7 linked regions of the Homo sapiens genome follow. The protein of the gene in region 5 purifies or fractionates together with the protein of the main gene of each other region. This does not show direct contact. Each region holds a gene or a part of one and is shown on either strand. Other genes may lie near its edges.

Evidence for each region.
Region 1: the proteins of MND1 (region 5) and VRK1 purify together in Homo sapiens (affinity purification with mass spectrometry; one large-scale study listed by BioGRID and IntAct). This does not show direct contact.
Region 2: the proteins of MND1 (region 5) and DNAJC2 purify together in Homo sapiens (affinity purification with mass spectrometry; one large-scale study listed by BioGRID and IntAct). This does not show direct contact.
Region 3: the proteins of MND1 (region 5) and PLCB3 purify together in Homo sapiens (affinity purification with mass spectrometry; one large-scale study listed by BioGRID and IntAct). This does not show direct contact.
Region 4: the proteins of MND1 (region 5) and SRP54 purify together in Homo sapiens (affinity purification with mass spectrometry; one large-scale study listed by BioGRID and IntAct). This does not show direct contact.
Region 6: the proteins of MND1 (region 5) and RTF2 purify together in Homo sapiens (affinity purification with mass spectrometry; one large-scale study listed by BioGRID and IntAct). This does not show direct contact.
Region 7: the proteins of MND1 (region 5) and NAA25 purify together in Homo sapiens (affinity purification with mass spectrometry; one large-scale study listed by BioGRID and IntAct). This does not show direct contact.

Annotation. Positions count from the first base shown.
Region 1 is NC_000014.9:96,879,746-96,882,109, forward strand, and holds the end of VRK1 (serine/threonine-protein kinase VRK1), read left to right. Parts: intron 1-1,431; coding exon 1,432-1,463; 3' UTR 1,464-1,864; downstream 1,865-2,364. UniProt on the Homo sapiens protein: Serine/threonine kinase involved in the regulation of key cellular processes including the cell cycle, nuclear condensation, transcription regulation, and DNA damage response.
Region 2 is NC_000007.14:103,320,768-103,324,267, forward strand, and holds part of DNAJC2 (dnaJ homolog subfamily C member 2), read right to left. Parts: intron 2,897-3,500; coding exon 2,831-2,896; intron 2,028-2,830; coding exon 1,936-2,027; intron 1,866-1,935; coding exon 1,744-1,865; intron 1,315-1,743; coding exon 1,165-1,314; intron 1-1,164. UniProt on the Homo sapiens protein: Acts both as a chaperone in the cytosol and as a chromatin regulator in the nucleus.
Region 3 is NC_000011.10:64,258,030-64,261,529, reverse strand, and holds part of PLCB3 (1-phosphatidylinositol 4,5-bisphosphate phosphodiesterase beta-3), read right to left. Parts: intron 3,058-3,500; coding exon 2,817-3,057; intron 2,646-2,816; coding exon 2,561-2,645; intron 2,473-2,560; coding exon 2,286-2,472; intron 1,502-2,285; coding exon 1,296-1,501; intron 131-1,295; coding exon 34-130; intron 1-33. UniProt on the Homo sapiens protein: Catalyzes the production of the second messenger molecules diacylglycerol (DAG) and inositol 1,4,5-trisphosphate (IP3).
Region 4 is NC_000014.9:34,981,725-34,985,791, reverse strand, and holds the start of SRP54 (signal recognition particle subunit SRP54), read right to left. Parts: upstream 2,801-4,067; 5' UTR 2,577-2,800; intron 1-2,576. UniProt on the Homo sapiens protein: Component of the signal recognition particle (SRP) complex, a ribonucleoprotein complex that mediates the cotranslational targeting of secretory and membrane proteins to the endoplasmic reticulum (ER).
Region 5 is NC_000004.12:153,358,188-153,361,687, reverse strand, and holds part of MND1 (meiotic nuclear division protein 1 homolog), read right to left. Parts: intron 3,215-3,500; coding exon 3,066-3,214; intron 186-3,065; coding exon of another isoform or gene 81-185; exon of another isoform or gene 1-80. UniProt on the Homo sapiens protein: Required for proper homologous chromosome pairing and efficient cross-over and intragenic recombination during meiosis.
Region 6 is NC_000020.11:56,506,627-56,510,126, reverse strand, and holds part of RTF2 (replication termination factor 2), read right to left. Parts: intron 1-3,500. UniProt on the Homo sapiens protein: Replication termination factor which is a component of the elongating replisome. Required for ATR pathway signaling upon DNA damage and has a positive activity during DNA replication.
Region 7 is NC_000012.12:112,046,284-112,049,783, forward strand, and holds part of NAA25 (N-alpha-acetyltransferase 25, NatB auxiliary subunit), read right to left. Parts: intron 3,329-3,500; exon of another isoform or gene 3,200-3,328; intron 2,161-3,199; coding exon 2,009-2,160; intron 1,508-2,008; coding exon 1,382-1,507; intron 329-1,381; exon of another isoform or gene 1-328. UniProt on the Homo sapiens protein: Non-catalytic subunit of the NatB complex which catalyzes acetylation of the N-terminal methionine residues of peptides beginning with Met-Asp, Met-Glu, Met-Asn and Met-Gln. May play a role in normal cell-cycle progression.

The sequences.
Region 1 (2,364 bases), on a different chromosome or scaffold from region 5:
TGGTGAAAGTCTAAGTCCTACTAAAATACAAAAATTACCTGGGCGTGGTGACAGGCACCTGTAATCTCAGCTACTCTGGAGGCTGAGGCAGGAGAATCACTTGAACCCAGGAGGCGGAGGTTGCCTGAGCCAAGATCGTGTCACTGCACTCTAGCCTGGCAACAAAGCGAGACTCCCTCTCAAAAAAAAAAATAATAATAATAAAAATAAAATTTCTTGAAATAAAAACCTAAAAATCTACTGTGGGATATTTTTAATAGATGGCCGTGTTACAGAAATTTAAGAAAAAAACTCAAATTTTAGAATCAATCATAGTACAGTATATAGGGTATGTATTATGAGTGGCAGAAAAAAGGATATTCATATAAGCTTGAAATTTGCTTTCATTGAACTGTATGATTGAATAGAAACTATAACTTGGAAAAATTAAAAATGCTAGTTTTGAAACTGACCTTCATGTTAAGTAACTAAAACCCATGATCAGAAAACCTTTAGATACACATGGTAGAATTTTGTTCCACATTCAAAGAATGTTTCGTACTTTTCAGAAAAGAAGTATTGATCTTTTGTTTTTTTTCGTGCAGTCATTGATTAATTATGAGCACCATGCTGTCCCTGACTCTGGTGCCCCTGCTCTTTCCTGGCAGAGCGTAGCATGCGGCAGTGGGAAAGAAATGGCCCTGCTTCTTTCACCAGCACTAGGCAGCCGTGATCAGGCTAACTGCTGTACCCAGAGGTGGAGTAGGAGTAGTAGGTGGGGTGAAATGTCTTGGTGAGGCAGAATTCCCATGCCCCCAGCAGAGAGTCATTGATTTATTCCAAACCAGAATAGTTAGATAGGTACTGTCATAAAGGACTTAGACCAGTATCACATATGATCCTTTTCCAGGAGGCTACTCATTTGGGACCTGTATAATTCCTAGCGGAAAAGACTTTCCATTTCAGTATATCCCAGTGCTCTCCTGCCTCAAGGGTGTAGCTAATAGTCTTTAAAAAGCAACTTATTGCTTTGCTTTTCATAACATGTGTGACCTCATCGCTTCCACCTTAGGAGTGAATGCTTATCTATATTGCTAAGGTTTATATTTGGAGATAATGTTTTAAATTTTACAACAAATTTAAATTTTGGAGAGAAATATTTCAGTATTAGTAAAAATTAGATACGTTTTATCAGTCAGTATTTTTATATGGCTTAAGAGAAGGTAGGTTTTGTCAGCATATTTTTTGACATATTAAAAAATGACCCAATTTTCTAAGATTTTCAGAGTATTAGCAATCATACCTTTGTATGTCAGTTTTATCTTTGCAAATCACGAGAGTCGATTTGATTTTAAAATGTTAATAACTATATTTAGGGATATTTATATTTCTGTTCTTTTGCTTTTGTAAATTATTGACTAGTGATTTCAGTTTCTTTGATTTTTCTTCAAGGTTCAAGAACCAGAAAGAGAGTCCAGAAGTAATTCAGATGCTGTGAACCAGATTTCCTTTTCTTTGTTTTCTTTTGACTTTTTTCTCCTTTTCTATTTGAACTGTTTTATTTTCCTGTGAGTCTTGCGAGGTGGAAGTAATGATTAAATACTCATGTGTTCAGAAAACATAAACTTTTTTTATAAAAATATTTTGTACAATTCATTAAAGGCTAATTTATGAAATTTGAAAATCTTCAGGTTATACTCCTTAAGTTATCCCAAAGCCGTGTGTTTGTGATGTTTTGGAGTACATATATATGAAAATTATTATGACACGCACTTTTCTAATCATTGTACATTTCTCAGAGTGGATAAAAATGTTTGACAAAGTCCTCACTTTTAAGGAAATGCAAAGCTTAAAATAAAACTCTCTTTTGTTTGATGCAAACACACAGTATGTTGTGGCTGTAAGGTTTGGTTTGTATTGATTTTGTTCTGTTCCCAAAATCTTTTATTAAACACCTGCTGTATGAGACAGGAGGTACAAAGACAGGAAAGGAATATGAAATAAAAAGTGGAGGAAGCGTATCCATGAGAGAGAAAATCTACATATATGAAAGATTACATAAGAATTATGTCAGTATGCAAGCCGTATGACAAGAAAACAAGTGACAGATGATCAAATGGTGGTGTGATTAAAGATTGTGTAAAGACTGGCTTCATCTACGGAAGTCCTATGAACTAGATATTAATAGATAGAGCCTATTGTTCATTCACAGAAGTTTATTTTTCTTAAAAGTTTCACTTTCATAGCATGTAATATTTATACAGTAAACCAAGCACTTCAGAGTTTCAGTGATCAGAAAGTTTAAGATCTGAAATGTTTTTAGTTGCCTTGGGAACAGAAGCTTGTAATTTTAACACATTTATGAACAATTTCATGATTCATTCC
Region 2 (3,500 bases), on a different chromosome or scaffold from region 5:
TATATATATATATATATTCTGAAACTGTGTCTATATTCATATCTTCAGTTATCTCAGCATGTCTTTTTTTTTTTTTTTTTTTTGAGATGGAGACTCTGTCTTGTTTAGTTACATTTGCATAGTAAAGAAAAGAAATACATTTATGCTTGGCCAGGTGCAGTGGCTCATGCCTATAATCCTAGCACTTTGGGAGTCCAAGGCAGGGGGATCACTTGAGGCCAGGAGTTTGAGACCAGCCTGGCCAACATGGTGAAACCCCGTCTCTACTAAAAATACAAAAATTAGCTGGGTGTGGTGGTATGCACCTGTAATCCCAGCTACTTGGGTGGCCAAGGCATGAGAATGGCTTGAACTTGGGAGGTGAAGGTTGCAGTGAGCCGAGATGGCGCCACTGCACTCCAGCCTGAGTGACTGAGACCCTGCCTCAACAACAACAATAACAAAAACTTAATTAGAAAAAGTTTTTTTGGCTGGGCACAGGTGGCTCATGCCTGTAATCCCAACACTTTGGAAGGCTGAGATGGGTGGATCATGAGGTCAGGAGTTCAAGACCAGCCTGGCCAACACAGTGAAACTCTGTCTCAACTAAAAATACAAAAAATTAGCCAGGCGTGGTGGCAGGCACCTGTAATCCCATCTACTCAGGAGGCTGAGGCAGGAGAGTTGCTTGAACCCAGGAGGCGGGGGTTGCAGTGAGCCAAAATCGTGCCATTGCACTCCAGACCAGGTGACAGTGCGAGACTCCATCTCAAATAAATAAATAAATAAAAATAATTTTTTTTTTTCAAGAAATATTTTGGCTGGGTGCAGTGGCTCATGCCTGTAGTCCCAGCACTTTGGGAGGCCAAGGCGGGGAGATCACTTGAGGTCAGGAGTACAAGACCAGCTTTGCCAACATGGCGAAACCCTGTCTCTACTAAAAATACAAAAAATTAGCCAGGCGTGGTGGCACACGCCTGTAATCCCAGCTACTCGGGAGGCTGAGGCAGGAGAATCGCTCGAACCCGGAGGCGGAAATTGCGGTGAACTGAGATCGCGCCACTGCACTCCAGCCTGGGCGACAGAGCGAGACCCCATCTAAAAAACAAACAAACAAAAAGAAGTATTTTTGCTTAATAAGCAACTTGATTTACTTGTGCCTAGTGTTTGTTCAGTCTGATATACCTTGCATGAGTTTCGAAGTTTTTGCCTTTCCTTCTTAATGGCTTTTTTCTGGATATCTTTTTCCTTCTTTGCCAGCAATGCTTGCTGTCTGACTTCCTCCTCTTCTTTCTCCTTAGCTAACCGAGCAGCTTCTAATTCAGCTTGTCTTTGCTTTAAAAAAAGGGAGTAAAATCATTTTAATAGGTACAGTAAAATTCCTAAATGTTTTATAATTTTAAAAATTTAAACTTTTAATAAATTATATTAGGAAAAAAGGCAACATAAACTTATTGAAAACTGAAGGATGAACTCGGAAAGACAGCTGGTAAAGATCTATAAACATTTATTAGAAAATGTAAAATTGACATATTAGAAATAAGCATAATATTAAAGGAACTTATGACACAATTTTTTGCTCAATAAAAACGTGCTGGTAAGGAAGATCTCTCAATTATACCAACTGGTCATGATTCATTCACAGTAGCACCCAATTCTCTGCTTTCGAATTATAGTTTTTTTTAAAAAAAGATGTGAAGATTAAAGTGAAGATTAAAGATTTCATAAACATTTAAAGTCCACCTTCATTAAATGTTGTCTTACTTTTTCTTTAGCTTCTTGCTCCTTCCGTTTAGCTTCTGCTTTTGCTTTCTTTTCTGCTTCTTTCTTGGCTTTTTCTTCTTCCTTGAACTTTTTTATCCTTGGATCACAGCTGTATGCATTGTCTAGCAAAAGAAAAAGTTAATCTCATTTTGAATTTCTAACATTTAGGGGACTTAAATCAATTCTACTTACCAACTAATGTTCTTATTCTGTTCATTTCTTCTTTTTTTCTTTGTGCTCTTGTTGCTCTGTTCTGCTTTTCAATCCATCTCCTCTCATCACGACTATAAAATAGAAAATATTGGAAACAAACTACTGCTTATAGATGCTATGACTGGAAAATGCAATATTTTATAAAATATTTATATGTACATAACATCCTAGAGGTTAAAATGCTGTGTCATTACTAACATTAAACAATGATTTTTTTTTTTTTGAGACAGACTTTTGCTCTTGTCGCCCAGGCTGGAGTGCAATGGCGTGATTTTGGCTCATTGCAACCTCTGCCTCCCAGGTTCAAGTGAGTCTCCTGCCTCAGCCTCCGGAGTAGCTGGAATTACAGGTGCCTGTCACCATGCCTGGCTACTTTTTCTATTTTTAGTAGAGACAGGGTTTCGCCATGTTGGCCAGGCTGGTCTCGCACTCCTGACCTCAGGTGATCTGCCCGCCTCAGCCTCCCAAAGTGCTAGGATTACAGGAATGAGCCAGCACGCCCGGCCTAAACAGTGGTTCTATTTAATATTAATTTTGGTTATTTTTTGCACATTCATGTCAAAAGCATTTCTGCACACATACAAAAAAAAAATTAATAAAACCTAGGTTAAGCAACCAGAAGAAAAAGATTTTGCTGAACTGAGCTATCTGACATTATATTCCTTGGCAATTTCTTAAGCATATCCTAACCAATTATTGATCTGGGCCCACCTAGTTTAACTTGTGAGAAAGGATTTCAAAATATTAAAAAATTGTTTAAAAAAGATGTACAAAGAGAAAATATGAAAGAAAATTTACGTGACAATTTTTACATCATCACAAATACCAGAGAACCAAATAAATACCTTCCATTATTAATGATTTGCATACATACCATTCTGCTTTTTCTTTTTCTTCTTCATCTAAATAAGAAAATTCTCTCCAAGAATCAAAATTATACCTAATATAGACAGAAATAATACATGATCAAGACAGAATAAATGAAAAAAAATTCTTTTTAATGCAAGTGAATGAATTTGTTTTAATGGATACCTTTCCTTCCCTTCTAGTATTGAACTAAGGTCAAGTCTTTCTCCTTTTTTAAGGACATTGCATTTGGTATGAAAATCTAAAATGCACATATCACTCCATAATCAAAACCACACCGCCCTGCTATCTCTTCTTTGTTAGGTTTTTCGCTTGACCAAGACCTATTTTTAAGTTTTCCTTGCCTTCAATTTCGCTAGTCTGTCAAGTCTGAAGGTAACCCTAGTAGTGGTTATCTCATCTCCAGTTTGTATCCTCTGAAGGTAAAAGCAATTACAACTGATAGAACTAAATCTTGTTATTTTTGTTCTATGTGATTTTATGTTTTTGTATTTACTAGACATTTGATGAGAAAATGTAGCACATATAAAATGGCCACTAACTATTGCGCATATTAAAAATTAGTGAATTAGTTACAGAGACAAATAGCACTGTCTCCTTCCTCATGAACTCAAGTACTTTTAGTAGGAAGTAACTAAATAAAAATGTACTTATTTTTATTCAAATGACTCCCCAAT
Region 3 (3,500 bases), on a different chromosome or scaffold from region 5:
AAGCTCCCATGCCTGCCACCCACCCCCACTCACTTCGAGCAGCCTCAAAGGACTTGAACTTGACAGGTTCGATGTAGTTGACAAGCGTGGACATCTCCTCAGTGGCATTCACCTCGCTGCTGGCTGTGCCCTGTGGGCCCCAACCCAGGGTCAGCAGTGCCATTCCCGCCACAGCTGGCCATTCCCTCACCTGCCCCCCATGAAGGAGGTGCTGACCCTCTTCCCAGCACTATATACACACTGCTGGTGGTGCCGACAGTCTTCTCCCCGGGGTCTCACTGATGCGCCCTGGACACCACCCAGCTCAAGCAATTTTCCTGCCTCAGCCTCCCAAGTAGCTGGGATTACAGGCGCCCGCCACCTTGCCCGGCTAATTTATGTATTTTTAGTAGAGATGGGGTTTCACCATGTTGGCCAGGCTGGTCTGGAACCTCCCAACCTCAGGTGACTCGCCCACCTCAGCCTCCCAAAGTGCTGGGATTACAGGCATGAGCCACCTCGCCTGGCCCATATAGGTGTTATAATTATCATTACTTTTACTGAATCATTTGGGAGTAAATTATAGACATCATGACCCTTTACCCATAAATACTTCAGCATATATGGACATTCTCTTCTATAACTCCAATACAATAATTAAATTCAGGAAACAAAACATTAACATATTATCTAATATGTAGTCCATCTTTAAATTTCACTAATTGCTCCAGTAATTGTCTTTATAGCAATGATGTCTTTTTTTTTTTTTTTTTTTTTTGAGATAGTGTCTCCCTTTTTAGCCCACGTTGGAGTGCAATGGTGCAATCTCAGCTCACTGCAACCTCCACCTCCCAGGTTCAAGGGATTCTCATGCCTCAGCCTCCCGAGTAGCTGGGATCACAGGTGTGAGCCACCACGCCCAGCTCAGACTGATTTTTTCTGTACCATTCCTCACAGCTACTCAATGCTCCCCATGACAATGCTCCCCGCTCCTGCACCCCCTGGCCCTGCCCCAGGACCTTTGTACATGCTGTCCCCCTTCCTGAGGTCTCCCTGCCCCACCTCCCTGCCCAGGGTAGACTCCCTATCCTCTGCCAGTTCTGTACCCTAACTCGCACCTCCCAGGCCACATCACCAGCAGAACTGTATGCTTGTTTCCATGCCTGATGACTGAAGAGCCCTCCTCCCACCTTCACTCACACCCACACTGAGCCCCAGGAGGCAGGGGTGATGTCAGTCTTGTTGATGGTCAGACCCAGCCCCCTGGGAGGTAAATAGATGCTACCTCCCCGACCTGCCCACCCTGTGGGCCTGACCTCATCTGTAGTTGGCTTTTTGGGGTCTGTCTGTTCCTCCTCTTCCTCATCTTCCTCCTCATCCTCACGGTCAGCAGGTCCAAGAACATAGGGGCCTCGGTTCAGGCCCTCGTCACCCAGAGACTTCTGAGGCTCCAGGCTGGGCTTCTCAAGCCCTACCTCCTCCCCATTGCTCAGGCCTGGGCAGCTGTCAGAGCTGGGAGACCCTGCAGAGGACAGGGCCACAGGGTGAGGGGTCAGGACCACACAGCTGCTTAGGAAGTCTGGAGGGGTTTTTCCCAGTGTGTGCCGAGGTGACTCAGTGGGGAATTCAAGGGGTACTCTCAGGGCAGTGTGGCTTGGGGAGAGGCCAAGAGGTCGAGGTCAGATGGTATTAACCCAGTATGGGTTGAGAGGGGTCATAGGTCAAAGGTAAAGGTCTGCAGTGATATTCAGCAGGGAGGCAGATAGGGTGGTTCAGTGGGGTGAGAAGTCAGGAAGTAGCATACCACAGCCCTAATAGCGGGGTAAGGGATGACATAGAGAGGTTACAGGTCAGGGGTAAGTCAGAGCCATGTCTAAGGAGGGGGCATAGTGAGGTGAACAGTCAGGGGTGAGAGGTCAGAGGTCAGCTGAAATGATAACCAACTGGGCAGGTGAACTCAATGCGGGCTTAGGGGTCTGAGGTCACACCCAGTGTGGGATGTGGTTTACTGAGGTCAGAGGTCAGCCTTCAGAGCCATCACCGGGTTGTGGGAAGGCTCTGAGAGGTGAGAGGCTGAGGTTGGGAGTCAGGAGTTGGGGTGCAGCTGGGTGAGACGTGCACCTGAGGTCAGGGGTCAGAGGCCCCACACCAGCCGACAGGTGGTGAGGAGACAGGCCGGTTGTGGGAACAGGCGCACAGCGAGGCAGGAGGGTGGGCTGGGGGTCTGGGATGAAGTGTCACGGCGCCTGGAGCATGAGGCCAGAGGCTAGGGTCAAGTCAGGGTGGCGGGCCGGGCTGGGGCCTACCCAGCTGCGGGGAGGAGGGCTCGGTGGCCGCGGAGCTCTCGCTCAGGGCAGAATTGCTCTGCTCCAGGGGCCGCTTGCGCCCGGCGCTGTCTGGGCCACCTGCGCTGGGTCGGTGCCGCTTCTTGTTCTTCACCAGGATACGGCCCATCAGGTCCTGGGGGCTGGGCAGGGGAACGCCTGGGGCCAGCTGGGCAGGCATGGACGAGTCAGGGCCCTGGACCGGGTCCGCAGCACCCTGGCCCCCATGCCACCCCCCTCGCTCCGAGCTCCCGTACCGGGTACTTGTCCAGAGGCTCGATGAGTAGCGCGTCTCCAAAGATGGAGCGGCAGTACTCAGCCATCTTTGCCTGTTGCTTTGCCCTGCGGAACCGAGGTCAGAGGTCAGAGATCCCTCCCCCAGAGAGGAAGCTGAGGTCTACGGGACATGTCAGTGGCCGTTCGCAGGGTTGGAGGTCCCTGAGCAGTCCAACAGCACTGAAGCTGGAAGACTGTCCCCCGGTCCATGGGGTTTCATGCCAGGGGCTCACTCACGAGTCCACATGGTTCTCGAAGGAGAGGATGACGGGGTAGGGCGAGGTCTTGAAGGCAGTCTCGGCAATGGCCTCCAGCACGTCGCGCAGAGGCACCTCTGTGGTCATGGTGAAGCCGTGGGTAATGAAGGGTTCCTCCTCAGGCGGCCGTCCCTTCCACACGTCCAGCTCCACGCAGCGGCAGCCCCATAGTAGTGCCTGGCGGTACATCTCCACCGACGAGGTCCCAGCCAGCTGCCCCGCTGGGGCGGCGAGGCTCTGTCACCGAGGCCGCCCACCAGCCCAGCTCCTCACCACCCCGGCCCCACCTGGAACCAGGACATGCTGGATTTGCAGAGGGCTCTCCATCTCTCAGATGGATACCCACCACCTGTCCATCCCACCAGCGTGAGCTGGGGGGAGTCATCCCTGAGACTCACTATAGCTCCCCACTGCCTCAACAATCCCTCCCTCTCCTCACTCCCTCCACCCACCTCAGCCCTGGCACAGCTCACACCACCTCCTGTGTGGAAGACTCCAGCCCTCCCTGCCTCCAATCCAATCTCTTTTTTTTTTTTTTTTGAGACGGAACCTCGCTCTGTCACCCAGGCTGGAGTGCAGTGGCACAACCTCGGTTCACTGCAACCTCCGCCTCCCTGGTTCAAGCGATTCTCCTGCCTCAGCCTCCCGAGTAGCTGGGATTACA
Region 4 (4,067 bases), on a different chromosome or scaffold from region 5:
CATCTAAATTCTTAATCTGGAGTGCAAAACAAGACATTTATGTTTTGAAAACTTTCACTAGCTATATTGATGTGCAGCAAGGGTTCATAATCACTATATTAAGTATTTAATAACATGTCCCAAAGAAAACAACAGAATGAGAAATCTGTTCTATACCTTAGAAACATCTTTAGATACAGTGTAACAAATACATTGGAGGGAAAAAACTGAAGAGCCAGGACACTACATGCACTACCCATACTCCATAAGGCTAGTTGAGACAAGATGTGGCCTTGAACTAGAGAAAAAGAAACTAGGGTTAAGGGCTAATTCATGAAGCAGAATCTAATGACCAAATGGTTATGGCAAGTGAAGGAAAAAAGAGGCAAAAATGATTCCAATATCTCTAGTTTTTATAACCAGATGGCTAGTGATGCCATTAACCAATGAATGGAAGGCAAAAAGGGAAGGTGGTTTGAAAGTCAGAGGAGTTAATAGAGAAGAGGTCAAAGGGACTTAATGTATTATTTTTAATGTTTCACTTTTTATGAAGGATGTGTACATAGATGTTCATTTCATTATCCCTCCAACTAGCTGGGACTACAGGCGGCGCCACTAAGCCTGGCTAATTTTTGTCTCTTTTGTTGAGACAGGGAGTTTCGCCATGTTACCCAAGCTGGTCTCGAACTCTTGAGCTAAAGCAATCTGCCAGCCTCAGCCTCCCAAAGTATTGGGATTACAGGCGTGAGCCATTGCTCACAGCCCTTATAATCCTTTTAAAAATTTAACCTACTTGTATCACAAAATTCAACCAGAGGTCAAAACTCAAAAACGCACTGACAATCACTGCTTTTATACACTTTCGTATGCATGACATATGTCATAGTGAAAAAAAAAAAAAAAAGGAAGGTGAAGACAGTGCATTTGGTTTTGGACCTAATGAGTTTGCAAGTTTTAGGGGAAAGTACAGAACTATCAACTCATGAGATGGAGGCTAAAGAATAAGGTTTAGGCAGGGCATGGTGGCTCACACCTGTAATCCCAGCACTTTGGGAGGCCGAAGCAGGCGGATCACTTCAGGTCAGGAGTTCAAGACCAACCTGGCCAACATGGTGGAACCCCATCTCTACTAAAAACACAAAAATTAGCTGGGCGTGGTGGCAGGCACCTGTAATCCCAGCTACTCGGAAGGCTGAGGCAGGAGAATTGCTTGAACCTGGGAGGCGGAGGTTGCAGTGAGCCGAGATGGTGCCTCGGTACTCCAGTCTGGGCGACAGAGCAAATAAGGTTTGGAAAAGAACAAGGTTTGGAAATGAAAAGAATAAGGTTTGGACATGGTTGGCATATAGGGACAATGCCATGGAAGCAAGCGAGAAGCCTCGAGGAGAGCCTGTGGAAGACCATTTGGGTTATAGCAATGACTGAGGGCCAACTAAAAGGACGGCGTTAACCAAGACTGAAAATAACCAAAGAGATAGGAGCTTTTACTAATTCCCTTTCCCTTTCTCCATGGCACATAGGAGAAAATCAATTTTTAAAAAGCTACATTTATGGTTATCTTACTGTAATCCTGTGGCAGGTCCAGAATTTCCAAATAGATGGGGACAGAGGAGTAATCTGGAAGGAAGACTTGAAGATGCTTTTGCATAGTACTCTATATTAAGGTAGAAAATACCAGTTGGCCATATCAAAAAACTGAGAAAAAGCGATTTGAGGGAAATATTTCCCTCCCCTTTGGCACCACGATTGCTGTATTCTAGGCACTAAACCAAACCAAACCTCTTACCTAATCTCCTTTCTTCCTCAAAACAAGCCTATTAAGTAGATGAGGAAATTGAGGCTAGATTGGAATAGAAACTGGCTCAGGGTCACAAAGCACCTAAGGAGCACTTTAGCTCTCCCACAGCTTTCTACAGCTCTTTATATGCAACTAGTGTTTCTCATTACCCATCTTGATATAATGTGTATTTATGTGCGTTAGCTTCTCAATGGCAGAGTTAGTGTTATTCATTTCTGTATCCTTGTAGCCAAGAACAAGTATATATTTTGTTAAATTAAGCATGTGAAAGAATCAGGTGAGGATAGCATGAAGAAAGGCAGCAGGGGAAAGTTTCAAGAAATGGATGGTCAGCAGCGTCAAATGGTACAGAGAGAGCTATCAGTCTATCTTAAATCATCATTGGCATTCAACTGATATTCCATATTCGTTTATTGAACGTCTACTACACGCAGGACATTGTGTTAAGCACTACAAACACATAGGAAAAATAAAAGTCTCGTACAAGTAAAAGGATTTTCGGGGAAGTAGCTTCATCTAAATTCTTGCTCAGGAAAGCAAAACGAAGACTCAGGCCTGCAACTGCCTACATCTTATTTGGCTCAGGTAAATCGGAAGACAACTCAAAAGGGGCACAGCGCATCTTTAATAAAACTTCTCATGGAAGACGAGATAAAGAGCCACAGAAACTCAGTCTCGGTAACGATGGCCGGTGGCCACGGAGGCCGACTTCCCCCGGAGTCTCTCGCCTCCTGAGCAGCGCTGGGGCTGCCCCTCGCTCCCCCTCCGTAGTCTGGGGCGGGAAAAAGCAGACACTTACCGCAAAAGACACCGCTAAAGCCGTGGCCCTGAGGGGCCGGGAATTCCTTAGCGAGGCCCCACGCCGTCGGAAGAAACCCAAGAAAGCTGGGAGCAGACAGACAGGTATGACCCCACAACCCAACTTCCCGAACTAGATAAAGTAGGGTCCCAACGCCCAGCACCACGTCGTCAACTCCCACCAGCTGGAAGACCAACGGAGTGCCAGCGAACCTTCCGCCCAATGAGGAAACGTCACCACTCCGCGTAGTCCAGCCTTTCTATAGGAGAATCTACTTCCGCTTCCGGGGCACACCGCCGCGTTCCTTCTACGCGGCTCCTGAAACAGTTTAGATGTTTACTTGCTTACACTGGTTTTTGGTTTCAGTTTCCTACCGCTGAATAACTGCAGGAGTAAAGTTAGTGGTAAAATAGGAGGCTGTCTAGGGACGTGATTTCGGGGAAGAAGTCAGGCCTCGACGAGCCACCTTAAGAAAAGTGACTAGGCGGAGCACTCCCAGCTAAGAGCGGAAAGATGAGAGATAGAGGTGTGACTGAAGGCAGGGATCCCCAGGCGCACGTGAGACCTCCGTAGAGGGGCGGGGCTTAGGGCTTTGCAGACCGGAGGCTTGTTCCGCGGAGGGTGGGGCGGTCTCTGCTTGCGCATGCGCAATGCCAGCCAGTGCCTGCGCGGCTTGCTCCAGCAAGGTAAAATTTCCCACTGCGAGGCAGGCAGTGATGCTGCGGCCGCTTCGCACTGTGGCTCCTGCCGACCGCCAGGCGCTGTTACAGTGGATGCGAACTAACCGTAAGTGTAAGTGACCAGAGCTAGAGGCAGGTGGTGGGGGCAAGGATATGCTGCAGGCGCTGACTTTGAGGACTTAAGCGGGGTGAAGCCAACAGCCTTCCTTGGGATCGTTGTGCTGGTCTCTGCTGTCTTGGGGGGTAGATTGACCAGGGCTTTGAGTGCTCTAACGGAAAAGAGAGTTAGTTGCTCGCCACACGTAGACACCAATTAACAAGAGCGAGCCCTAGTATACAAGAAGAGGGATTTTATTTCTGAAGCCAGCCCGCTTCGTCTTTGGAGCAAAAAAGCGGGCATTTTATAAGGTACAAGAGGAAATGAGCAAGAGGTCTCTGCTAGCTGGTGCCTTATCTACCGGGTAGTTGAGTTGGTGCATTTCTGAGCAGAAATAAGTTGTAAAAGTGGCCAAGTGGGCATGCTTTCTGCTTACCCTTCTGAGGCGACCGCCTGGCGGTGGGAGTTGCGTCTTGGATCTCGTAGATGAATTTGCTCTGTAGAGAATGGTCTGGTGAGGGGAGTTGAGAGGTTATTTTGCAGTTCAAAAAGGGCTAAGTGGAAAGTGTAGTGGGGAGGGGAAAAGAGGGGAAAAAATAAACTATCTCTTGGAAAATGGGGGTAATCGGATACAGTACCACTTGGAATTAATTGGGTGTGGGAAACCTGGTTCTGAGTGGTTTGTGAGTTTTCAGCAGACTTCGGACAAGCCTT
Region 5 (3,500 bases):
TTTTTTGTATTTTTAGTGGACAGGGTTTCACCGTGTTAGCCAGGATGGTCTTGATCTCCTGACCTCGTGATCTGCCCGCCTCAGCCTCCCAAAGTGCTGGGATTACAGGCGTGAGCCACTGCGCCCAGCCAGAATTTTCTATAATAGGAGACTTTAATTATTTCATGGAAGCAGCAGCCAGGGTCCTAAAGAAGAGGAAATAAAAACATGCAAACTCGGATTCATGATAAAACATCAAAACATAACATCAAAGACTGAAGGAAATCTTAAAAGCAAACAGAAGAGAGATTACTAAGGAAAACAAGACAATCAGAATGATAGCAAAACATCTCATTAGCAACATATGCCACAAGACAATGAAGTAATATTTTCAAAATGCTGAGGAAAAATAACTAAGAATTCTATATTCGGGAAGCAATGATAAATTAGACATTTTCAAACAAAGATTGAGAGTTTACCACTCTTAAACTCTGGCTGAACAAATTACTAAAGGATGTCCTTCAGTACGGATTCCTTCTTGAAGTGTTTTTAAATCCATAAAGTGCACAGGGTTACAGGCCGGTCGCAGTGGCTCACCCACCAGCACTTTGGGAAGCTGAGGTAGGTGGATCACTTGAGTTCAGGAGTTCAAGACCAGCCTGGGCAACATGGCAATACCCTGTCTCTACAAAAAAGTGCAAAAATTAGCAGAGTTTGGTGGTGTGCCTATAATCCCAGCTACTCAGGAGGCTGAGGCGGGAGGATGGCTTGGGCCTGGGAGGTCGAGGCTGCAGTGAGCCATGTTTGCGACACTACACTCCAGACTGGGTGACAAAGCAAGACCCTGGGTACTTTAGTAGTTATATATACATGTGTATATATATGTGTATATATGTATATATGTGTATATATGAATATATGTGTATATATGTGTATATGTATATGTGTGTATATATGTGTATATACATATACACACAAAGCAAGACCCTGTCTCACACACACACAAAAATATTTATAGTATTTATTTATTTATTTATTTATATAAAAATATTTATATATTTTTGTGTATATATGTGTGTATTTTTATGTGTATATATATATACACACACACACACACACACACATACAGAAAAGAAGTAAATTATACTAAAATACAGTTACTTTGGACATGTATGTACAAAAAATTGAATTTAGACACACACTTTACACCTTTCCCAAAAATTAACTCAAAATGGATAATAAATCTAAGTGTAAAATGCAAAACTACAAAACTCCTAGAAGGTAACATAGGAGAAAATCTACATGCCCCTGGATTTGGCCACGACTATTTAGTTACAACACCAAAAGAATGTCCCAGGAAAGAAAAAAATTGACCAGTTGGACTTCATTAAAATTGAAAACTGCTCTGTGAAAGATGCTGTTGAGATAATGAAAAGATAAGTCACAGACTCAGAGGAAATCTTTGAAAAACACATATTTGATAAAGAACTGGTGTCCAAAATATACAAAGAACTCTTAAAACTCAATAACGAGAAAACAAAAACCCAATTGAAAAATGGGCAAAAGATCTAAACACCTCCTTTTACATAGATGACAAATAAGCATAAAAAAAGATGTTCCAGGGCTGGGTGTGGTGGCTCATGCCTGTAATCCCAGCACTTTGGGAGGCCAAGGTGGGTGGATCACCTGAGGTCAGGAGTTCAAGACCAGCTTGGCCATCATGGTGAAACCCCGTCTCTACTAAAAATACAAAATTAGTTGGGTGTGGTGGTGTGCACCTGTAACCCCAGCTACTTGGAAGGCTGAGGCAGGAGAATCACTTGAACCAGGGAGGCAGAAGTTACAGTGAGCTGAGATCGCACCATTGCACTCCAGCCTGGTCAAAAAAAGTGAAACTCCGTCTCACAAAAAAAAAAAAAAAAAAAAAAAGATCTTCCAAATCATATGTCATTAGAGAATGGCAATTTAAAACAACAATGAGATACCACTACACATCTATTAGAATGGCTAAAATACAAGACACTGACAACACCAAATCCTGGCAGTGATGTGAACCAATAGTAACTCTTACCCACTGTAGTTGGGAATGCAAAAACAGATACTTTGGCAGTTTCCTAGAAAGTAAACATAAACTTACCATACAATCCAGCAATCACGCTCCTTGGTACTAAATGTGTTGAAAATTTATGTGTACACAAAACCTACACATGAATGCTTATGGCAGCTTTATTTGTAACTGCCCAAACTTGGATGTGACCCAGATGTTCCTCAATAGCTCAATGGATAAACAAACTGTGGTATATTCATATAACGAAATATTATTCAGCAATAAAAAGAAATGAGCCATCAAGCCATTAATAGACATGGAGAAACCTCAAATGCATTTTGTTAAGGGAAGGAAGCCAATCTGAAAAGGTTACATACTGTATGATTCCAACTATATGGAAAAGGTAAAACTATAGAGACAGTAAAAAGATCAGTGGTTGCTACGGTTTCGGGAGAAGAGAGGGATGAACAAGTAGGAAACAGCGGATTTTTAGGGCAGTGAAACTATTCTGTACAATACTATAATTGTGGATACACGTCATCATGCATTTGTCAAAACTCACATAATGTATAACACCAAGACTGAACCCTAATGTAAGCTACGGAATTTAGTTAGTAATAAATCAATATTGACTCAATTGTGACAAACATATTACACTAGTATAGGATGTCAATAACAGGGAAAATTGTGTGCGTGGTGAGGGAGAAAGGGCACGTTTGGGAACTCTCTGTACTTTTCCATCAATATTTTTCTGTAAGTCTAAAACTGCTTCCAAAAAACCATCTATTGATAAAGAGAAAATTAAAAAACAATAAAAACAGCAACAACAAAAACAATATCTTGACATATGGGAAGATGAAAATTAAAACGTTCTAAGTTCCTCATATTGTTTAGGAGAAACAGATGTTAATTATCTTTAGACTTTCAGTCAAATAATGCATATCAAAAATTCAAAAGAAACTGCTAAACAAAAAGAGGATGAAGTAAAACAACTCTCCGTTATAAAGCAACTCTATTCTTTTTAACTGTGGCAGCTTACCTGAGATTCCAGAACCTCCAACTTATGTTTCCTTGCATGAAGAGCTTTACTTGGAAAAGCCCAATAATAATTAGAAGTTCCGATCCTCTCACAGTCAACCATACCATCATCAACTAAGCTTTGAAGGACTTCTTTTACTGACATAGCAGCTAAGAGACAATTTTTAAAGACTCTATGTTAGAAAAACACCATAAATAAAATTAAAGGACAAATAACTGGGGAAACACTTGCAAAACATATCACAAATCAAGAGTTAAAAAGTTAATAAGCTCTTAAAAATAACAACATGCACAACAATGAAACTGCCTAAGGAAACATTTCTTAGAATGTATCCCCATCCTTAAGCAAAGCATGACTTATACAGGAGCCTAGGGGAAAACAAGTAATATACAGGATTAAGAACAGGACCTGAGTTCTAATCCTAACTCTTAGCAG
Region 6 (3,500 bases), on a different chromosome or scaffold from region 5:
TCCCATACCCACTGGCACTCACTCCATTCCCCTTTCCTCAGTCTTAGGCAACCATTAATCTACTTTCCATCCTACAAATTTGCCTCTTCTGGACATTTCTATAAATGAAATCATACAATATACATGTTTTTTTTTTTTGTGACTGGATTTTAGCATAATGTTTTAAAGATTTATCCATGTTATAGTATGGATCAGAACTACATTTCTTCTTATTGCCAAATAAAGTTTCATCTATGAATCAGCTGACAGAGTTGTTTCCACTTTCAGACTAAGAAATTCACATGGAAGTCTTTTGTGGACAGTTGTTTTCATTTCTGTTGGGTAGATACCTAGGATTGGGATGACTGGCCATAAGTTAACTTTATGTTTAACCTTTGGAGGAACTGCCTCTCCTCAAATGATGAACTTCCAAAGAGGCTGCACCATTTTACATTGCCACCAGCAATGCCTGAGGATTCTCATTTCTCCACATCCTTCCCAACACCTGTCATCGTTTTTCTTTTTTTTTTTTTTTTGAGATGGGATCTCGCTTTGTCGCCAGGCTGCAGTCCAGTGGCATGATCTCGGCTCACTGCAACCTCCACCTCCTGGGTTCAAGCGATTCTCCTGCTTCAGCCTCCTGGGTAGCTGGGATTACAGGCCCCCGCCATCATGCCCAGCTAATTTTTGTATTTTTAGTAGAGATGGCATTTCAACCATGTTGGCCAGGCTGGTCTTGAACTCCCGACCTCAGGTGATCCACCTGCCTCCCAAAGTGCTGGGATTACAGGTGTGAGCCACTGCAACCAGCCCATTTTTCCTTTTAGTTATAACCATCCTAATGGGAGTGAAGTGCTGTCTCATTGTGGTTTTAATTTGCATTTCCCAAATGACCAGAGATGTTAAGCATCTTTTCACGTGCTAACTGACCATCTGTATACCTTCTCTGGAGAAATGTCTGCTTAAATCCCTGGTCCATTTCTTAATTGTATTATTTGTCTCTTTGATGTTGCGTTCTAAGAGGTCTTTATACAGCATATTCTGGATATAAGTTCTGTCTTAGTCCAAGACTGTTATGACAAAATATCTTACACTGGATAATTACAAAAGTTTTTTATTTTGATGAAATTGGACTTAGCAATTTTCTCTCTTACTGCTACGTTTTTGGTGTCATATTTAGTAAGTCATCGCCTAACCCAAGATTGTGATTTACTCCTGCGTTTCTCCTAAGTGGTTTGTAACTAAAACTTACAGATTTAGGTCTGTGATCACTTTGAGTTTATTTTTACATTCAATGTAAGGTAAGGGTCCAAATTCATTCTTCTGCATGTGGATATCCAGTTACCCCACACTATTTGTTGAAAAAACTATTCTTTCCCCCATCGAATTGACTTGGCCCTTTTGTCAAAAATCAATGACCATACATGTGAGGGTTTATTTCCGGACTCCCTATTTTATTCCATTGATGTATATGCCCGTTCTCATGCCAGCACCACACTATCTTGATTAGTGTAGGTAACATGACTTCAAAGAGTCACATATTGAGTGGATCAACCAAAATTTATCTTTCTAATATCTATGAAAAACTCTATTAAATGTTATAGTCATAGATGTTTAAAAGTATGCCAGATAAGGTCTGTTATTAACTAAAATATTTAGTTACTCCATAAGACACTGCCTTTGAAAAACATAAAGGCAGGCAACCAAATAATAACAAAATTCTTTCAACAACTGGAACAGTAATTTTAACAGACCTACTGTGCCCAGAGCAATAACAGACATACTATGCCCGGAATCTCTTTTGTAGAAAACATTATCAGCACAAGAAAAGCCATAAAAGTACTTTTTTTTTCCTGAAGTTGCCAAAGATTTTCCAGAATCTCCCAAATGCACAGAAGATACCAACAAGCATTTGCTGACTCTCCTCAGCCCCTGCCTTAGCTGGGTTATTTAATGTGGTTCTTGTCTCCAACAGTGATTTTCAGGTTAAGATCAGCTTTTTTTCTAGGGTGGGTCTGGTAAATTTTCGTGACTGAAGATACCTTTTTGACCCACAAATCCCTGAGGGTGGTGCCATAGAGAAGTTATATGAATGACTGAAGCACGTGCCCAATCTAGCATTTAACTGGTACAACCCTTGAAGAAAAGGAGCTTGTTTTTAGCCATCACTGTAGAGAGCTGGGCCTACAGGAGGAGGGACAGCCTGCTCTGCTAGAGGAGGTTCCCTGGGAAGTCTCACGCTATGGGAGGTCTGAGTAGAGCTTTCCCTTGGCTCTGGAAGATGGTCTCTTCCTTGGAATGAAAAAGAATCTGCAGGAACAGAACCAGGTGGTAGTTAAGGCCCAGTGGGGCCTGGAGCTGTGGCTATGACGTAAAGGGCCCAGGGGTGGGGAGGAACCCAGCGTCTGCTCCCTGTGGGTGCTGCCCCCACCTTTCTTTTTCTCTCCTCCTGGGTTTCTGCTGCTGCTTCTTTCTATCACTCCTTGCTGCCCCTCCTTCCGACAGTGTTGGGGTAAGCGGTCTCCTTCCTCTAGATCAGACTGTTCAGAGGACATGGACCTTATTCTGCATACAGTTGTGTTGTGTTGTGCCCAGACTTATTGTACTTTTAAAGTTGAATTGGCCACTGACAATAAGAAGTCAGGAACCCCTCACATTAGAAATTGAGTAATCTTGCTCTTTCTCTCGAAAATTCAAAAGATCCATTAACACCAAACCCACACCCTCAAGGGCCTCAATGGCTTGAACCTTGGTAGGAATTGCCCCTGGAGACTGGGCAGAGTCCTCCCAACTGCTAGGGGCCCCATCACTCGTTCTGGGTAGGTGCTTGACCCGAGAGACCTGAGTGCAGTGGTTCATCCCTGAAGGATGAGGGAAAACAAGGGTAGGGGCTACTGCGGAGATGGGGAGTGGGGCTGCCGCAAAGTCACAGCTGGTCCACAGGGACCTGCTCCCCACCTCTTTAGTAAATAATATGTATTATACCAACAGAAAATCACCCATATCTTCCTGCTAATGCATTTTTCTTGAGTACTGCTATTGTACGGTAGAAATTATACATCCATTTAAAACTGTATCTTCATCCTTTTTATCGCTTGAAACTCAGATGTCCAAAGAATGGGTGAAATGGTTAAAAAAATCATAATACGGCCAGGCGCGGTGGCTCACGCCTGTAATCCCAGTACTTTGGAAGGCCGAGGCGGGCGGATCACGAGGTCAAGAGATCGAGACCATCCTGGCTAACATGGTGAAACCCCGTCTCTACTAAAAATACAAAAAATTAGTCGGGCATGGTGGTGGGCGCCTGTAGTCTCAGCTGATCGGGAGGCTGAGGCAGGAGAATGGCGTGAAGCTGGGAGGCGGAGCTTGCAGTGAGCCGAGATCGTGCCACTGCACTCCAGCCTGGGCGACAGAGCGAGACTCTCTCTCTCAAAAAAAAAAATTATAATACATTCCCAAAAAGGAAGATTATATGGTTAGAGTTTGGGGCAATGTAGAAAATGCTTATCATAAGTTAAACG
Region 7 (3,500 bases), on a different chromosome or scaffold from region 5:
CTGGAGAAAGGAGCATACTCAGTGTTTCCCCTCAGAGGAGGGAGAAAGCACTGGAAGTCTGAGTTCTCCCGACTGTGCCTGTTCCTTTTTCCCTTCCGGATTCTGTCATGTGTCCTTTCACTGTAATAAACCTTAGCCGTTGAGTGCAACTATATGCTCAGCCCTGTGAATCCTTCTGGGACTCAACAATCCTAAATCACTGAATGTGGCCTTGGCAACCCACAAATCACAGAATTTTCAGAACTACCTCATATACACTTCTTAGCATGTTTCTGCATTTATTTCCTTAGGTTCTACTTTCCTAGAAGCAGATCTGCCAAATTAAATGGTATGTGGCATTTTAAATCTTGATACATATCACTACAACTCCCTATAGGAAGACTGTATAAAATTTATCCCTGTGTAAATGCATAATAAGTATTTACCACACAGCCTTGCTGACCACAAGTATTCATCTTTTTTGCTAGAAACAAAATCTTTATTGCTGTAAGATGTGTTTCTTTGCCCAATTTCTTATTTTCTTATTGACTTATTAAGAGTTCTCTCTATATATGAAGGATACTTGTATGAAGAAATTTACTACAAACCTTTAGAACTTAACAAATTTATTATTTCTATTTACAGAAGTTAAATCCTTTATGTTTCCAGATTTGGTATAATACTAGGAAAGGCTTTCCTCACCTATTTAAAAATATTTTCTATATTTTCTTCTAGAATTTCTAAGGAATCTAGAATTTAGCATACAGTCTTTAATCGATCTGGAATTCTCATATATGCTGTGAAGTAGATCTAACTTTTAGATTAACCAGCAGTCCCAGCATAGGGGTGAGCTATACTTTCTTCATTTGGCTTACCTATATTTTCTGATCCCTACAACAAACACATGTTATTTTATATTTGTGTAAAGTGAAGTTTGTTTTTTTTAATTTTAGATTCATCCTAATTCTTTTTTTTTTTTTTTTTTGGAGATGGAGTTTTGCTCTTGTTGCCCAGGCTGGAGTGTAATGGTGCGATCTCAGCTCACTGCAACCTCCGCTCCCTGGGTTCAAACAATTCTCCTGCCTCAGCTTCCCGAATAGCTGGGATTACAGGCACACGCCACCACGCCCAGGTAATTTTTGTATTTTTAGTAGAGATAGGGTTTCACCATGTTGGCCAGGATGGTCTCGAACTCCAGACCTCAAGTGATCCACCGGCCTCGGCCTCCCAAAGTGCTGCAATTACAGGCCTGAGCCACCGTGCCCAGCCCAACCTAATTCTTTAAAAATAAACTGCTTCACCCAGGAGTTCGAAGCTGCAGTGAGCTATGATCTTGGTCTCTTTAAAAAAACAAAAAACAAACAAAAACTTTAAAAATTGCTTGGGGTTAAATTCCAGTTACCTGTCTTTTGGATCCCAGCTGAAAAAAACATTTAAGTCTCTGTTGTCTCGCAAATCTTCCCATGGAATGTCATCTTCTTCTGGCCTAAGGTTCATTGACTTTATACTTTCTGCTAAACTGGTTGATCTGTGATAGAGAAAAATCCACATATTATTTTAATAGTAAAATAGCCAGAAAATATTATTAATCAGGACTTCCTGTTTTACTAGACAGGAAGGGAAAGAGGAAGGAAGGGCTCATAATAAGGTGAAATAGAACCAAGCGCAGATCAAACTGGCTTGCTACATGGCAAGAAAAAGGCTTCTGGAAGCCCACACAAAACAAAGGGGATCAGCATTAATTCCTGAAATCTCTTGATTTGTAGGGGAGGCGGAACCTTCGTAAGCACAATATGGACCAGGCATTGATGACCATGACCTAAATGGCTTCTGTAATGGTCTCAAGATGTTGCTGGCAGTACTCTACCATTCCCCATGACATGTGCCAAGTTCTGTTTCCCCACTGTCTCTCTCCCTTTTTTCCCCCTATTTTACCTTAAGCCTGCCAATAACACCCATGAGCCCATTAATGGCTCTTAACAACTGATCTAATCCCTTAGTTCCTTTATAGCTCTCATGCAATACTTACATATTTGCTTCAAGTAGAAGGTCTAACAGCATCCGTTCAGTACGGACTTGTGCAAAATGAAGAGAATTATTCAGCCTGTTCCTAAAAGCGATAAACTCTGGGATCTTCTCAAATGCACCATATTTGTAAGCTTGAATAATATATTCTGAGGTCTGAGAAGGAAAGACATCACCTTGGTATAAATAGTTCACAAGTCAGGCAATGTAAGCAAACCTTGCCAGCCAAAACAAAACACTCAAACTAAAATTAAGTTTTAAATCTAATCTTTAAAGGTCTTGGTCACCAAGTAGAATATTAGCTTTTTAAAATGTTTTTCTTCCTTCTTATACTTTAGACAAATGTCTCCTTTACTAATATTACTAATTGTAATAACCAGCTTCTGCCACCATCACATAAGCCTTCTCTTGGCAGTCATGTCTTTCAATTCAATAGGAACTGAGGTTTTGTTTTGCCACATCAGTCAAAAATTTGGTTAGTGCCATTCTGGAAGGGATGTTACTCCATGTTTTTCTGCATCTAAGATAAACTGTGTTTCATACAAAGGTTCCAAAAGCACCAGAATAATAGAACCACCTGCCCCCCGCCCCCCCAAATAAAAACCACTCTCCTTCAGAAAAAGACAGGCTGCTCCTTGGTTTTGCTTATTTCTGAATACTGTATTAGAAACACAGGGCATATGAGCATTACGTCAGGATAGAAGTAAGACACCAAACAAAAGACCTATCAAAATTCATGTCATAATCTATTCTGAGGACAAAGACTTCAAGAACCAAGTTTCTTGTCCATCTACATTACGTAAGACCTCTGCTGGAAATTTCCTTAAACAAGTATGTGAAGGGAACATTCACCACATGTGCTTTAATTGTAGCTTAATACATATACAGAGATCAAACATTACAGAACAGAGGCAAGATAAAGAATTCTAAGCAGAAATTCTGGCACAATAGAAGAAAATCTCAGGGAAGAACATTTCATGGGTGTGGGTCTATGCCATCAGGATCAGAAGACAGGAGATTACCCCTTTGGGCCAAGGAAACTATTATGCTCAAAGCTGATGTCTGCCCCCAAAAAAGATCCTTTCTAGAAAAAACAGTCTTTTTACACAGCCTCAGTTAATCAGCTCTGCCCCCATCTCCATTACGTCTGAATAATTTGCCCAGTAGGAAAATAGGCCAATAGTCAACAACATACCCTCTGATATACAGCCTTGCAGGGTTCATTTCAGGCCGCGGGATTGCGCCACGGGCGCTAATTCAACTGCATTCGATGCGGCTTTTAAACCCCCATGGGACACCTCGGCGAGCTGTTTGCCTGCAGTATCTGGAGAAATTAAAGACGGACGGACACAAGAAAATTAAAAAGATTACTTGTGATCCTGCAGGTTTCAAGAAGGACTACCTGAAAAAGCTCGAGTATACCTTCTAGCTTGATTAAAGGACAGTGATACACCCTATCAAGAGGAGGCCAGGATACTCTAAACACATATGCCTAT